2 separate regions of the Homo sapiens genome follow, and region 1 is linked to region 2. Evidence: fine-mapped expression QTL. Tissue or cell type: whole blood. Region 2 holds a variant in brackets; the other region holds the start of a gene. All regions are shown on one strand. Distances are from middle to middle.

Evidence for each region. PIP is the estimated chance that this variant, and not a neighbour inherited with it, causes the effect.
Region 1: TBC1D22A starts here. The variant in region 2 is fine-mapped to the expression of TBC1D22A in whole blood (TOPMed, PIP above 0.99).

What each region holds. Positions count from the first base shown.
Region 1 is chr22:46,758,169-46,766,343 of GRCh38, reverse strand. TBC1D22A (TBC1 domain family member 22A) reads right to left here and starts at 3,694. Exons shown (of 13, transcript NM_014346.5): 1 at 3,496-3,694. The coding sequence starts at 3,557. TBC1D22A-DT (TBC1D22A divergent transcript) reads left to right here and starts at 3,816. Exons shown (of 1, transcript NR_186691.1): 1 at 3,816-4,433. RefSeq lists enhancers at 1,977-2,026, 2,047-2,126, 2,167-2,236, 3,167-3,246, 3,947-4,076 and 1 more and a silencer at 2,987-3,046.
Region 2 is chr22:46,790,939-46,799,113 of GRCh38, reverse strand. TBC1D22A (TBC1 domain family member 22A) reads right to left here. Exons shown (of 13, transcript NM_014346.5): 2 at 6,538-6,594; 3 at 5,273-5,613; 4 at 1,494-1,670. Among named protein-coding and RNA genes, the nearest start is that of TBC1D22A, 32 kb to the right of the region's middle. RefSeq lists enhancers at 297-797, 7,514-7,623. The variant T/C (reference allele first, on the strand shown) is at 3,662.

The DNA.
Region 1 (8,175 bases), 33 kb after region 2:
GCCTGGCCAACATGGTGAAACCCCATCTCTACTAAAAATACAAAAATTGCCGGGCACAGTGGCTCAAGCCTGTAATCCCAGCACGTTGGGAGACCGAGGCAGGAGGATCACAAGGTCAGGAGATCGAGACTATCCTGGCTAGCACGGTGAAACCCCGTCTCTACCAAAAATATAAAAAATTAGCCAGGTGTGGTGGCAGGCGCCTGTAGTCCCAGCTACTCGGGAGGCTGAGGCAGGAAAATGGCGTGAACCCGGGAGGCGGAGCTTGCAGTGAGCCGAGATCGCACCACTGCACTCCAGCCTGGACAACAGAGTGAGACTCCGTCTCAAAAAAAATACACACACACACACACACACACACACACACACACACACACACACACACATAAATTAGCTGGGCGTGGTGGCCAGTGCCTATAATCCCATCTACTCAGGAGGCTGAGGCAGGAGAACTGCTTCAACCGGGACCCAGGAGGTGGAGGTAGCAGTGAGCTGAGATCATGCCACTGCACTCCAGCCTGGACTACAGAGAGAGACTCTTGTCTCAGAAAAAAAAAAAAAAAAAGGAGGAAAACAAGGCCAGGCATGGAGGCTCACGCCTATAATCCCAGCACTTTGGGAGGCTGAGGTGGATGGATCACCTGAGGTCAGGAGTTCGAGACTAGCCTGGCCGACATGGCGAAACCCCATCTCTACTAAAAATACAAAAAAACAGACAGGCGTGCTGGTGGGCGCCTGTAATCCCAGCTACTTGGGAGGCTGAGACAGGAGAATCACTTGAACCTGGGAGGCAGAGGTTGCAGTGAGCCAAGATCACACCACTGCACTCCAGCCTGGGCAACACAGTGAGACTCCATCTCAAAAAAAACAAAAACAAAAACAAAAACAAAAAAAGAAAGAAAACAATCATGGGAAACAATTGAAAGAGCTGCCAAAGCCACAGGAACCTGGCTAGGATCTCCACTAGCACTGTGCTTGCATAGGTGTGGACTAAATAAATACGCAGCTAGTGACCAATCACCACTACTGATAGGAAAACGGGCACCCCTCTGTGACTCCTCCTTCAGGGAAGAGTTCCAGCCTGCCACCTGAAAGAGCAGCACTGCCAGAGGCTTGAGCCACAAGACGGATGGGAGACACAGAGGCTTCACAGGCCTTCCTGGTGCACCCAACCTCTCCTTCTTCTTCTGCCCTCTTCAGTGACAGCCTCGAACTCTCCAAGACTCCAACTTCACAAAGGTAATACAGAAGCTGCTCTCAAAAGTGCCTAAGACACAGAATAGCATCAAAGTCAGAGGAAAAGGAAAGCTGGTGTTCGGTATTTCAGGTTCACACAGAAGAAAGCTGGAGACTGTATTAGTCTCCTGTGGCTGCCATAACAAATTACCACCAACTGAATGGCTTAACACAACAGACACTTATTCTCTCTCAGTTTTAAACGCCAAAAACCCAAAATCAAGTGGTCATCTGCAGGGCCATGCTCTCTGTCAAGTCTCTAGGTGAGCATCCTTCCTTGCCTCTTCTAGCTTCTGGTGGCTGCCAGCAACCCCTGGCTTTCCTTGGCTTGTAAATGTACTATTCCAATCTCTGTTTCTGTCTCCATAGGGCCATTTCCCTGTGTGTGTCTCTCTGTATTCAAATTTCCCTCTTTTTATAAAAATACTAGTTGACGAACTAAGGCCCACCCTCATCCAGTATGACCTCATTTTACCTTGATTACTTGTGCAAAAACCCTATTTCCAAATGTCACATCCATAGTTTCCAGATGGACATAAATTCAACTCAGTATAAGGACAAATTACCAAGAGCCACAGCCTTCAATCCAAAGGTTGAGTCACTGCTGTAACTCCACACAGCAGCTCTGTTATTCTTACATCTAAGCTGATTAAGAATTAGAGTTTAGACTGATGAGGAACCAAAACCTTAAGACCTAAAAGTAACACATAAAAGTTACACTGTCATGTGGCTCCTCTTCCCTGGACTCTTATGTTCTACAGCATTTGTTCCTGTCACTACCAGGACCTCCTACCCACCACCATTCCAGAATCTTCACTCACCTTGGACCCTGACACTGGTTTTGTTGAAAGGTCTTACTGTTCTCGAATCAAGCACGGTCCTGTGGAGTCGAATAGGGTCTCCGGCCACCTTTGATGACTCCCTTCATTCTCAAAGCCACTGTCTGAGCTGTCAGTAACTCACGCTGCTAACCCCCAGATCACTCTTAAAAGTAAACTTTCCTTTTTTTTTTTGAGACAGAGTTTCGCTCTTATTGCCCAGGATGGAGTGCAATGGAACGATCTCGGCTCACTGCAACCTCCACCTCCCAGGTTCAAGTGATTCTCCTGCCTCAGCCTCCCAAGTAGCCAGGATTACAGGCATGTGCCACCATGCCCAGCTAATTTTGTATTTTTAGTAGAGACTAGGTTTCTCCATGTTGGTGAGGCTGGTCTCAAACTCCTGACCTCAGGTGATCTGTCCACCTCGACCTCCCAAAGTGCTGGGATTACAGGCGTGAGCCGCCACACCTGGCCAAAAGTAAACTTTTCTAACTGGATGCAGTAAATTCCAAAGTTTATCATTCAAACACTCAAACAATAATATTTATTATGAAACAGGAGTACAAACCATTTTACTGTGTTTATGAATGATTCTACTCAGACTTATCTTCGTAACACAATTCATAATTTTCAGCATTCCAGACTTCAGCTTTGGAACAGAACTATGTTCTGAAATCTTGACGTTTGCTTATCTCTGATCTGTTTTCACCAGTGGCTGATTTTATCCTAGGTACCCTCCACGTAATGTCTCATTCCCTAGGGCCCTGGCATAGCTCAGCGCCACAGCAATCAGACAAGGACTCTGGAGCTCTGGAGCTGTATAGCATCTAGGGTGTACCCAGGTCATTCCAGCCGAAGAAAAAAAAAAAAAAAAAAAAAAAAAAAAAAAAAACTTCCTGCTAACACAACATAGGAGGTGGTTTTGACACCAGCAAGCAGAAACATGGAAACTCACAGGGAAACTCTAGTCCTCTTCTATGCTCAAGGCAAGAGCCGCAGCCCTCAAGAGACCACAGGCAAATCAAGTGGGTCAAAAACACCACACCCCCTGCAGAAACTGATCCACCCAGCAGACGGGGGGCCTCAGCCCGGCCAGCTTCCGGACTCCACCAAACTTCACAGCATGACCCGAATCAGTTCCTTCCAGCCTCCCCAAGGAGCCCAGGAGTTTCTCGGAAAGAAGCCTGCCAGTGTCAGGAAAAACGCCAATAGCTCCTCCTCGTCCTTGCAAGCCTCGATCCTACGTGCAGCCACTGTCACCCCCAGACCCCACGCTCCGACCTCCGAGCCCCCCAACGCCCGTCACACCATCCAGCAGTCTCCTCAGAGTCCAAGTTGCCCTCTCCAGACCCCCGACTCCACCCGCAGCCCAGGAGGCCAACGCGGCCACCTGACCTCTGACCCCTGACCCCGACCTGGCCCTCCGCGGCACACCCACCTGCCCGGGAGCTTGCTGTTGCTGCGCTTCCAGAATTGCTTCCTGGCCCCGTCGCTGGCCATGGCCCCTCCTCATCCCTCAGACCCGCGGCCCAGACACCCCGAGTGCACCCGGCCCTCCCCTAGCGGCCCTTTCCTGTGCCCCGGGTGGCCCCTCACTGCTCCCGGGACTCCAGAGCCTAGAGCCGAGAAGCTCTTCCGCCTCCTTCCGGAAGTTGTGCCTACGCGCGCCCGGAAGTCCCGCCTAAGTCCCTGGTGGCGAGTGACGCAGCACTCCGAGCGCCCGTCGTTATTAAAGGGCGACGCCGCGCAACGCACGTTACACGCATCGCGGAGGGAGCGGAGGTGGTTGGGTTTCTGAGTTTGAGTCTGTCGCTCCTGGCTCTCCCGACACAACAGCGGCGCCCACCTGCCCGCAACGGACTCCCAGGAGCCTCGAGCTCCTCATTTCCAAAGCTGAACTGCCCCGTGTCTGATTCCGATTTCTCTTGAGCGCGTTTCGGAGCCGGCCCAGAACAGAGGGAAGCCAGACACACCATACCCGGCCCAACAGTGGCAGGGCGGCTGCGGGTGCTGGTCAAGCTGGGTCACCCGGCACTGAGTGACGATCAGCAAATACTCAGTGGACGAAATATTTGCAGTGCAGTGAGGTGAGGGGCATAACCGCGGAGCGTATTCGAAGAGATGAGAGAGACTGGGGATTAGGCCAGGCTTGAAGGGAAGAATGGTTTGAGCACCGAGGACAAGAATTAATTCCCCAGGCCTGGGTTCCAGCCTTGTGCGGCTATCACGTGCTTGAAACCTGGCTAGTCCGGAGTGAGATGCGCTTTACGTGTAAAATACAGGATTCCAAAGACGTCGTATAAAATAATTTGTATATTGTTTGCATGTTAGGTAACATTTTTAATGTATTGGATTAAATAAAATGCATTAAAATTATTTTTACATTCCTTTTACTCTTTTTAAAATTATTTTTACCTTTTTTATTCTTTTTTTCCGGGGGGGACTGGGGGTGGGTGTCTTGCTATGTTGCCCAGGCTAGTCTCGAACTCCTGCCCTCTAGTGATCCTCCTGCCTCACCCTCCCCAGTAGTTGGAACTGCAGGTGCACACGTTATGACTAGATCTTTTTACTGTGTGTGTGTGTGTGTGTGTGTGTGTGTGCAGAAAATCACTAAAAAAACCGTGTCTGGTTTGCATTACATTTCTGTGCTTCTTAGACCAAAGATTGAATGCTCAGGGACTGTCATTTCAGACTGGAGCTTTAGTGTATTTGGAGCTCCTGCCAGTTCTCTTTTAAAACAAAAATCTAAGACATATTTTCTGATTAAGAATTTCCCTGGAGGCTGAGGCAGGAGAATAGCGTGAACCCGTGAGGCAGAGCTTGCAGTGAGCCCAGATCGTGCCACTGCACTCCAGGCTGGGCGACAGAGCGAAACTCCGTCTCAAAAATAATAACAATTTCCCATGCCTCTTCATTTACTGGTAAGTAACATTGACTTAGTACTTACTATGTGCAAGGCGTCCTACTCTCCTAGAATCCTCTCCTAGTAGGGCTCAGAAGGCCCCAGGGGTCTCCTCCTGACAGAGCCCTGACAGCCTCAGACAGTGAGGTCCCCTACAGACAACACTGAGGACCATGGCGGTTCTTTCCAGCTCAGTCTGGCTTATTGCAAGAACCAGTGAGCGAGGTGACAGCAGGATTAACCTGATGGAAGGGGAAAGGAAGGAAGAACTGAAACAATTGACAGAGGAAAAACTGGCAGCACTTAGTGACTGGTTACACCTTAGATCCGGGTGCTTTTTATAGCTTACCGTATACTTTGCTAGCTACTGTTTTCAGGCGAAGGAGTGAGGCTGAGATTGACTTGAAGGCTTCAAAACCAGCTAAGCAAAGGATTACTAGGATCACAACAGAAACGTGAAGATGGAAAAAGAAAGTCTGAGTAGAAGGCCAGTTTTGAAAGCCAAAGTAATACAGATGTTGGAGTCTACATATGGGACCTAGGAATTGGGACAGATTCTCAAATCCCAGAGGTATGGAATGGAACATTTTTTATTCATTTTTGCAACAAGTATTGAGCAGCAATGCAAATTAAAACTAAGGACATACCATGTTACACTTAACAGATTGGCAAAAACTTAAAAACCTGTCTTTACCAAACTTAATAAGGATGTGGATTTGTGAGCAGAGCAGAACTCTCTTGCACTGCCAGTAGGAGTGTACGTTCATTCACTAACTTTGGATGGCCACTTAGCAATTTCTAGCAAAGATACTCTATAACTTAGCAATTCCACTCTTGGTATGTGCTCTAGAGTACCTTGCCTATGCGTGCAAACACAAGAATGTTCAGTGCAACGTTGCTTCTAGTGGTAGTTGGGGTCTGGGGGAGAAGCAACCAAAATGCCATCTATGGCAGAATCGATAATCTACACAGTTATGCAGTAGAATACCATAAGTTAGTAAAAATGAATACATTAGTTGCATACATCAACATAAATGAATTTTGCAAACTGTGGGGTTGTTTTTGAAATGGGGCTTACTATGTTCCCCCGGCTGGCCACAAAATCCTGGGCTCAAGTGATCCACCTCAGCCTCCTGAGTAGCTGAGTACAGATGCAAGCACTACCGCACCTGACTCCACAGTGTTGAATGAGAAAAAGTTGAATATTAATTCACATGGTATGATACCATTTAGTACTATTTTCTTTTAAAGGATGAGAATGCGACCAGGTATGGTGGCTCATGCCTGTAATCGCAGCACTTTAGGAGGCTGAGGCAGGAGGATCCCTTGAGCCCAGGAGTTTGAGGCTGCAGCAAGCTGTGATCATGTCACTGCACTCCAGCCTTGGCGATAGTGCCAAACCCTATCTCAAAAAAAAAAAAAAAAAACCAGAATGGTAAAAGATAAATTCAGGAGGGTGGTTGCCTATAGGTACAGGTGGGGACTGTGAACAGGAAGGAATTCATTCATAGCGGATCAATTGTGCTATTATGCTTTGTTTCCTAAGGCAGATGGGCTATATTCAGGTGTTGGTTATATTCTTTATGAGTTTTTACATGTATAAAATGTTTCATAATACATTAAAATATAGTTATTGAGTTTGAACTGTGCTATGCACTGAGCTACATTGAACTACATGATAAGGCAAACAAAAGTGCAGCAGGCCAGGCACAGTGGCTCACACCTATAATACCAGTACTTTGGGAGGCTGAGGCGAGAGGATCACTTGAGACCAGGAGATCAACACTAGCCTGGGCAACATAGGGAGACCCCATCTCTGTGAAACTTTTTTTTTTTTCTTTTAGCCAGTCATGGTGGTAAACACTCTTAGTCCTAGCTACTTAGGAGACTGAGGCAGGAGGATCACTTGAGCCCAGAAGTTCAAGGCAGCAGTGAGCTAGGATCACACAACTGCACTCCAGCCTAGAAAACAGTGAGACCCTGCCTCAAAAAAACAAACAAAAAAAAATTGGGATAGTATTTCAGGATGGCTGGATTTGCAATGCCATTTGGGTTCCTCGGGAAGTGTTTTCTGCTTTCTTTGCTTTCAGATGGCCTGCTCCGGGCTTAGAATATCTCTCACAGGACCTTACTGAGTGAGCTGCCACACTCCCACTTGGTGGGTTCTGCCTCCTAAGTTTCCTGGTGCTGTACCGTCCATAGGCACCGAGCCTGTGCCCCAAAGTAAAAAGCTGACTGTTCTATCTGTATTGGTTTCCTAAGGCTGCTGTTGGCAGAATGCTGCAGACTTAGCGGCTGAAAACAATACACATTTACCCTCCTACAATCCTGGAGGTCAGAAGTCCAAAGTCTTAGCACTTCACTGCACTAAACTCAAAGCGTCAGCAAGGCTGCCCCCTTCTGGAGGTTCTAGGGGAGAGTCAGTTTCTTACCTTTTTCAGCTTCTAGAGGCCACTTAACATTCCTTGGCCGACACTCCTTCCTCTGTCTGGAAAGCAGATCACTCTAATCTCTACTGCCATCATCACATCATCTTCTCTCCTTCCGATTCCTCCTAGATCCCTCTGACCTCACGTCAGGCCCACTGGATAATCCGGTCCAGGCTGATCTCCCCATCACCCGGCCCTTAGCTCAATCACACCTGCAAACTCCCTTTGGCCATTTAAGGTAACATTTGCAGGTCCCAGGATTAAGTCCTGGTATATCTTCAGGGGTTCATTATTCAGCCTACCACAATAATAGACGGCATATAGCAAAGGTCCCCAGTTTCACACCGCGAGAGGCAGGCGTCGTCTTCACTGCCCCCTTCCCCAACTCCTTTCAGCCATTTTTATATTACAGGGACTAGCAACGTGCCATTTCCTGACACTAAGTCAGGATGAGTTAGGGTGCTGTTGGTTGCAAGAATGACAAAGTTCAGCTCAAATTAGCTTATACTACAAAGGGAATTAGTTGGTTAATGAAAAAGCCCAGAAGTAGCTCAGAAGGTTTGGAGAAGGGCTGATACAGCAGCTCAACAATGACCCAAGGGGCCTGTCTCCTTCTGTCAGTCTCTTAAGTCTTTGCCAAGGACAACTTCCCCTTGAGGTCACAGGATGCCTCTGTTGGGCCCCTGGGATCATGTGCTTACCTCTAGTCAGGATGCTAGAGAGCAGAAATACTGTGAACTAGTATCAGTCCCCGGGAAGGGAGCACTATACATTGCTTACCAATTCC
Region 2 (8,175 bases):
CCTCATTTTCACATACACCCTGCTGTGCTGTGTCATGTTATAACACATGCAAGTGTTGCTGTTTCAAAAAAAAACAAACATAAGGAAGAAACAACCACCCACTCTGAGAACTCTACTCAGAGCTGTGTCCTTCTAGCCAGGAGACCTTCCAAGAGCCCTCCCCCGCCTCGAGAACACAGCTTCAGCCATGCCCTTTGAACCGCTGCTTCTGCCCGGAAACCCTCTCCCTGCCCTGGGCTTGAGCGTGAAGGCCCGGCTGCTGCAAGCTCCTATATGGCCCCTGCATGGCTCCTGCGTGGCTCCTGGCGGCCCATCCGCGTGCGCCACTCGCCACCTCCTGGCCAAGCCAGGCGTTGCACCTCTGGCTCTTAGAGTGCCACAGTGACACCAGTCATAACTGTGTGATACAGGTTTGTCCCCTCAATGAAGCAATCTCATGACCAAGGCCACATTCCGGTCCTCCCGAGAGCTCCAGCGTCTAGCAAACACCTAGCCAGAGTGGCACTCCACAAAGATGAGATAGGGAAAGGAAGGACGTGGATTCAGCAGGAATTCCACCAGAGGAACTGAAAGCAAGTGCGTTCCACAGAGCCTGGCCACGGCAGTCCACATGGGCACTGCGTGTGCCTGGAAGCAACTCGCGCAGGAAGAGTCACACTGGTGACTGTGCTCTGCCCTGTGGGCCTGCCCCTCTGCCCCAGCCTCACCCCTGCCCCCTTGCAGGGCTCACAGCCTGTCACCCTCTGATGACTGCAAGCCCCATGGTAGGAAAGTACAAAACCAGCAGATTGAGTTGATGGTCACCAGCGCTGTGCCCCCATGAGCCACTGTCTTCAGAATACTGTCAAGAACAAGGATGTCCACCTGGCCAGCCTCGAAGGGCTCACCAAGGGCAGCAATAATAAAGAGTGCAAATGGGACAACAGGAAAACAGAATGGGCCAGGCGTGGTGGATCACGCCTTAAGCCCAGTGCTTTGTGAGGCTGAGGCAGGAGGATCTCTTAAGCCTAGGAGTTCAAGACCAGCCTGGGCAACACAGGCAGACCCGTATCTGTAGAAAAAATTGTTTAAAAAATCTGGTGAGCATGGTGGCACAATCCTGTAGTCCCACATACTCAGGAAGCTGAGGCAGGAGGATTGCTTGAGCCCAGGAATTCCAGGTTGCAGTGAGCTATGATCACACCACTGCACTCCAGCCAGGCAACAGAGTAAGACCTTGTCTCAAATTTTAAAAAAAGAAAACAAAAAGGAACGCAAAATACATTTTCAAATTGCATGGGAAAAACATTAACAAAACTTGTCTAAAGCACAAATTGCTACTACCTTAGTGACTGACTTGAAAATATTACATGAAAACATCACCTTCCTGCAAGGCAAATTACACACGGACGCGTGTGCATTACATAAGCATACATAGAATCCTTTAAGATGTGATCTATTTCAGAAACAGCAAGAAATGTCTGTGTGTGTCCTCCAGAGGGCAGGGTGCTTACCAAGGTCCGTGTTGGGGCCGGCAAGCAGCTGCTTGAACTTGTCGAGCCGGGAGGCCTCTCTTTCGCTCAGCGCTGAGCTGCTGAGAGTGCTGGGGTCAGATGTGCCACCCAGCGTGACGGTGGCCGAGTGTGGGAGAGACTGGGACCTCTGCAGAGGGGCGGCATCGCTGGCACTTTCTGCAGGGGTGAGAGAATGGGGGTGAGGGTGAGGGCGCTCCTCCCGACTACACGTTCCTCCTTGCTGTGCCACTGTCCCTTTGTGAATGCTGATGGGTCCCTTCTTCCCATCACTCAGCAGTGGGGACCTTGGTTTCTTGAGCAATAACATGGAACTGACACCTTTGAAATTCACTCGCTTCACTGGCAGAGTATTATTCACCAACAAAATGGACCACCTTGCATAAAAGCAACACAATGACAGCCAGAAAACTCCAGGGCCCCTCGGGCTGTGTGGAGGTCAGGCTCCCACCAGTGCCTGGGGTGGCAGATCAGGGCCTGCCCAGGTGACATGACCCAGAGGGTCTGTGTAGGACGGTGCCCTCGGGTCAGCCAGGCCTGAGTGCGGAGGGCAAGCCCGTGAGTTACCATGAGGGAAAGGAGAAAGCCTGCAGAGGTGCTGAGGACAGAAGGCAACAGTGGGGACACAGCAGGAACCAGGGCGCTGCGAGGGCTCTCACCTGCCATCTCAAGAGCGTGCCCAACCCCGCCACCTGCCTGGCCCTCCTGGGTCTCACCAGTGCCCTGGGAGGAAGGTCCCACAGGGACCCTCATCCCAAGGAAACAAAGGAAGCCAGACAGGTGAGGGATGGCACCTTCCCAGACCCCACCACAGGCAGTGACCGCAGTGGCACTAGAGTACAAGCTGCCCGCCCTCCCTCCCGCCCTCTGCTGCTGCCCACCATGGCCCCACTGACCCCCAAGACGGACAGGCCCAGGGGGATCCAAGCAGGTGGTGAGACAGCACGTTCCACCCAGCAACCCGGGACCGGGTCAGCCCAAGGGAAGACCCTAAGGCCCTCAGATCACTCAACACTGCCATCCGAGACCAACAAGCAAGAGGCTGGGAAAGGCTCCAAACTCCTGGGTCTAAATCCTGTCTAGCTATCTCATTTTTCAAAAACTGAAAATTAAAGTAGAGTGAAAAATAAACTCCAGGAAATGGAGCCGAAGCAAACGCTGCAGCTGACGGGCCGACATCCACTCCAGCAGCCGCTGAGCAAGGAGGTAGGAGCCGCACTCCCCCGCGCCCTCCTTCCCACAGAGCACCCCCATTTCCCTTATAACCTGGGAGTGGGGGAAAATAATTCACACAGAAACCCTCAGGCTATCCAGGAGCCAGGCAACCTATGGCCTCTGGGCAGAATGTGGCCCAGTTAAATTTCCAGAAAAGTCTGCTAAAGTGGGGACATAGACTTCAGAGTACCGCCCTGTCTCCTCCCCCATCCCCGCTGCCCACTCTCCCTGACTCCCCCCAACCCCCAGGAGGATCTCCTCCCACCAGCCTCAGTGCCCTTGCAGTGATTCCTATTTTGTAGCAGCCGCACACCAAGCAGTGGGCTGGGGCTCCAGCCCGGGGCGTCTGGCTCCAGAGTTTCCGCTGCCGGCCTTACTGCAGACAGGGCTGAGAACCAGCACCTGAGCAGAGGGGAGGACCATGGGTGACAGTGCCCCCTCTCCCTCCTTCAGAGGCTCCTGCTTCAGCAGCACTTACAGTTCCTCAGAGTGAATATTCAGCAGGAAGAGCAGCTGTGCACTGAGTCCCAGAATTAAAGGTGCTCAGCTGGACTTCCCTGTGATCTTCAGAAATGACTGATGTGGTTTCATCAGGACACGTAAGGGGCCGCTCACTCCTGAGCAGAGCCCATAAGTCCATGTCCTAGTGCTGCTGCAAAGCTTAATGAGTTTAGTATCACAGGGACTTGATACTGTACCTGCCACACAGTAAATGATCAATATATGGTATCATTGTCACTATACTGAAGTACTCAAAAAAAGCTTGCCCAGAAAGCAAACACAGGAAAGGTGGCCAACTCCAAGGCAGGCAAGTGGGAGCACAAGGCAATGAGGTCATGGGCCCCCTTCTCCCAGCGCAAGCTGCCTGCAGCATCCTTTGCTTGGCTCTTCCAGGATGAGGCCATCCCAGGGTGACATCCCAGGGTGACATCTCA[T/C]AGCTCCCCGACCCCAGCTGGTCACAGCCTGAGCCTGCCTCTTGTCAGATCCCCCAGCCACACACCGTGTGGTCCTGCGGTCCTGGCCACTCTCAGCCTGACAGTGCCCTGCATCTTGGGGGTAGGGGGCACGGTGCTGAGAGGCTCACAGAGCTTCAATGTCAGCACCACCCATGAGCAGATGAAGCCAGGGATCCTGCCAACTCCGACTGCCACAGGCTGAAGGGCGCTGCCCAGGACTGGGCCTGCAGAAGGCGGTCAGTGCATGCTTCAGTCAGTCACCAGGTTTCCAAGCCTCCCGCAAAGGCCATCACCAGATTTCCAGTTACGAGTTCAAAGACTTTAAAATTTATTACACTCCAAAAAGAAAACTGATCAAATGAAATCACGCACAGCATTCTCAACTAATGAGAGCTGTAACATTTTAGAAGTTAACCAATTCCTAGAAAGTGGTTTTAAAAACTAGACCTAGGTATGAAACCTAGTTCTCCAGGGTAAAATCAGGCCACCCTAACAATCTCCATCTTCTCAGCTGGAAATGTGGGGAGAGCACCCTAGCCCCCAGAAGACCTTGGAGGGAGGTACCTATGAGGGCCAGTGGCCAATCCAGCTGGACTTCGCCCCTGCCCCTCACCCCCTGCCTCCCAACAGCACCACTGACACGAAGACACCCTGACCTCCCCGTTTCAGATGACACCTGCTCCCCACTGCTCTCAGGGCCACCGCGTTCCCACCCCATTCTCTGCCTCTCTTGACCGTGGCACCTGCTGCCTCCCAGCACGCTCTGTGCCCCCTTGCTGACTGTGGGCAGTGCTGCATCTGTCCCTCTCACCAGAATGGACTTGCCGCAGGGCACAGATGTACCTCAGTCTGTCCAGTGGGGTCTCCCAAGCTCTGAAAACAGTACCCGCGGCCCACAGTGGGTTCATCGCACAACCATGCAGCTTTTCCATCACAGACGTGATGGCCTGCAACACATAAAGAGCAGCAGCCACAGAAACAGCCTCAAGAACAGCTGCTGCACACCAGTGCCATGCACATGGCACCAGACACGACCCCACCCGAGGGGGTCAGAGTGCAAACGTGGCCGACCCAAAAGTCAGACTCCCAGCCCCTACAGACCTGAGCCCACGTGTACGCACACCTGGCAGGAATCCTGTAAGCTGCCTAGAGGGCCAGCCCCTAAACATGCAGAGGCCTGACCCCTCGGCTGGCAATGTCACCCATGGAACCATCACAAGCTGGTGGAGTTAGGAGGGAGACAGTGTCCCCAGGCGCTTGCTCCCCCGTGGCCCTCTCACGGCCAGCCCACAACAGCCTGGTGCCTCCACTCCACTCGGAGAAGACATGCACGTAGCTAGGCCAGAAGCCTCCACTCCACTAGGAGGAGACACGCACGTAGCTAGGACAGAAGAAAGCACTTGGGGGCCCTAGGAAAGAGCGCAGGCCACTCCCCTACCCTTGGAAGAGAACCATAAGGGCTCTCGTGGGCCAGGGGGCCTGCTGCAAATGAGGATGGGAACCCACTGATTCTCCCACAGTGAGTGTGTTCTGGCCACTTTCTTAGCTTGGCCAGAAACCCAGACCATCTCTTCAGTCCTCCCATCGTACCTGCAGGACAGGACGTGTGGCTCTCACTGACCGACTTCACCAGCCGGAGGTCGCCGCTGGGGGGTGAGGGCGGCTCTGCCTCGGGCCTGGGCTTCTGCTGAAGCCCTGGCCCCTCCTGCAGCGTGGGCCGCCCCTGCCGCTGGCTGTGGTTACGCAGCACACGGTTGGCCGTCTCCATGACCACCTCGGAGTTCAGGCTCTCCGCCGCCATGGCCAGGAGCTCATCGTCGTCCTCCCCAGCGTCCCAGGCATCGCTGGTATTGCTCTCAAACTCCTGGAAGGTGCTGACCCTCTTGGCCTTCACTGGTGTGGTCGGCATCTTGGCCGTGGACCTGAGCAAACTGCAATGCAAAGGCAGTCTTTACTCGTACATGCTCGAAGGCTTCACCCAAAACCAGCCAGGAAAGAATTCCCAGGTGAAAAGACAGGCATAGAAGTGTTCAGCTTTGATCTAGCAATAGTGAGTGAAAAAGCAAACACAATTCACAGAGACAGCCAAAAGAAGAGCAGGCGAAGCCCATGAGGACTCAGTGGCAGGAGGGGGAGGGGGCTCCAGGAAGGTCACCTGGGAGGAGGCGCAGGGCCACATGGTGATACCCTGCAGGACCACCCCAGCTCACTCTGGCCAGTGCCTGGGGCACCTTCCCCGAATCCCAGTAAGGCTCCTGCCCAGCAGTGAGGGGTGTGGGCCAGGAGCGCCTGTGCAGGGTGCAGGCCTGTGGTATATGGATTTGAAGACATGATCATTTAAACAAGATTCCCCCAAAATAGGACAACACACAACATCGGCCCCACCTCACGTGAGAAACTTGTCAGACAGGTGCAGTCCTGCAGGGTCACAACAGCCCAGCACAAGCCCCACACTCTGCGCTCCCGCCTGCTGTGGAGGGGCCAGGACAGGCCAGGGCCGGGCTCCAGCAGCTGGTGGAGAATGCGGGAAGGAGGAGGGGAAAGGACAAGCCAGCATGGATGGCCTGCAGCCAGGCTGCCCATGGCTAAAGGATGCCAGCTCCTGGCTCTCCCCAGGGCTCCCCCACCTCCCCACATCAGGCTGTGGCTCCCACATCCGCCGTCTTCACCGGGATGCGCAGCACGGGGTGCACAGTATCTCACACAAAGCGACTGCTTGATCAGTGTGGCTGAATGAGAAACCAGTCTCCTCCCTGAGGAATGCCTGGGAGCAGGAAGGAAGCAGGAAGACCGGGGTTGCCACAGCCCTCCCATATCAGAGCCGAGACGCCAAGTGAGGTTGGAACGTCACTTACGTGCCATGTAACAGTGGATCAAAGGGGGGGTGCTGGGCACCATACACGTGCTGGATGCTGATGGAAAAGAAAAGGAAAACCAGTGAGCCTCTCTCCTGCCTTCCCAAGAGCCCTCCACCAGCTCAGCCGAAAGGTGGGCTCCCAGGAACCCACAGGACTGAAGGAAGCAGCTCCTCATGGGCTGTCGCAGGCCCCCCTGCAGCCACCCGGGGTCCTGAGGGCCCAGTTCAGAAGGGATGAGTGGCACCATACAAGCCCACACCCCACACCCCACACAAGCAGGGCATTCAGCCCATCCCTGAGAATGGACCTCAGCCCGACAAGCACCACCACAGACCCTCGGGCATCTACACGGTGATGAGGGTGTCTGGGAGTGCAATGAAGGAACTGAGGCCTCTGCCCACAGACTAAAAACTCGAAGAAACGCCCACCTGGGAATTCTCACCTGCCATCATTTTGTCTGAAATTGAATGCAGAATTGCAAAAGATAAATATAATTTTTTAAAAGATTGAACAGGCTTGGCACGGTAGCTCACGCCTGTAATCCCAGCACTTTGGGAGGCCAAGGCGGGCGGATCACCTGAAGTCAGGAGTTGGAGACCAGCCTGGCAAACATGGTGAAACCCTGTCTCTACTAAAAATACAAAAATTAGCTGGGCATGGTGGTACATGCCTGTAATCCTAGCTACCGGGAAGGCTGAGGCAGAAGAATGGCTTGAACCCTGGAGGCGGAGGTTGCAGTCAGCCGAGATCGTGCCACTGCACTGCAGCCTGGGTGACAGAGCAAGACTCCATCTCAAAAAGAAAAAGACTTAACAGTTTTACTATAAAAGTCTTACATGCATCAGAGTAAATTTGGAAAACTGATGGAAATGAAATACCCCACGTGGCAGACACTGTTGGTTGACTCATCAACCTCTACCCAGAAGCCTTTGCTCCTTTGGCTGACGTCAGCCACGGCTGGCCCTGTGACACACATTTATTTTTCATAGCCGGCAAGAAATAAATGCTGGTTTTTACTTTTCTGGAAAAAAAAAAAAAAAAACAGGCTTAGCTAGCACCCCTTTGGCCCCCAGCTTCTTTCCCTTTTTTCCACCTGGAACACAGAGGTGAGGCCTCAGCCATCGTGCGTGAGTGAAGATGCCACCATGAAGGGCAGCAGGGCAGACAGGCAGGAAACAGCATGGGGCTGTGACAGCTTTGAGCTGCTGCCCAACCCTGCGCTGCTCACCACAGACTACCAGACACAGGAAATAAACGAATCTCTGTTTGTTGAAGGCAATACTGGCAATGTTGGGAGGCCGAGGTGGGCGGATCGCTTGAGCTCAGGAGTTTAGGACCAGCCTGGGCAACATGGCGAAACCACGTCTGCACAAAAAAATACAAAAAAATTGGCTGGGCGTGGTGACATAAGCCTGTGGTCCCAGCTACTTGGGAGGCTGAGGTTGCAGTGAGCCAAGATTGCACCACTGAACTCCAACCTGGGTTACACAGTGAGACCCTGTCTCAAAAAAATAAAATAAGTGATTACAAAAAAATGGCCGGATGATCGCTTGAGCCTGGGAGGTGGAGGTTGCAGTGAGCCAAGAATGCACCACTGCACTCCAATCTGGGTTACAGAGTAAGACCCTGTCTCTA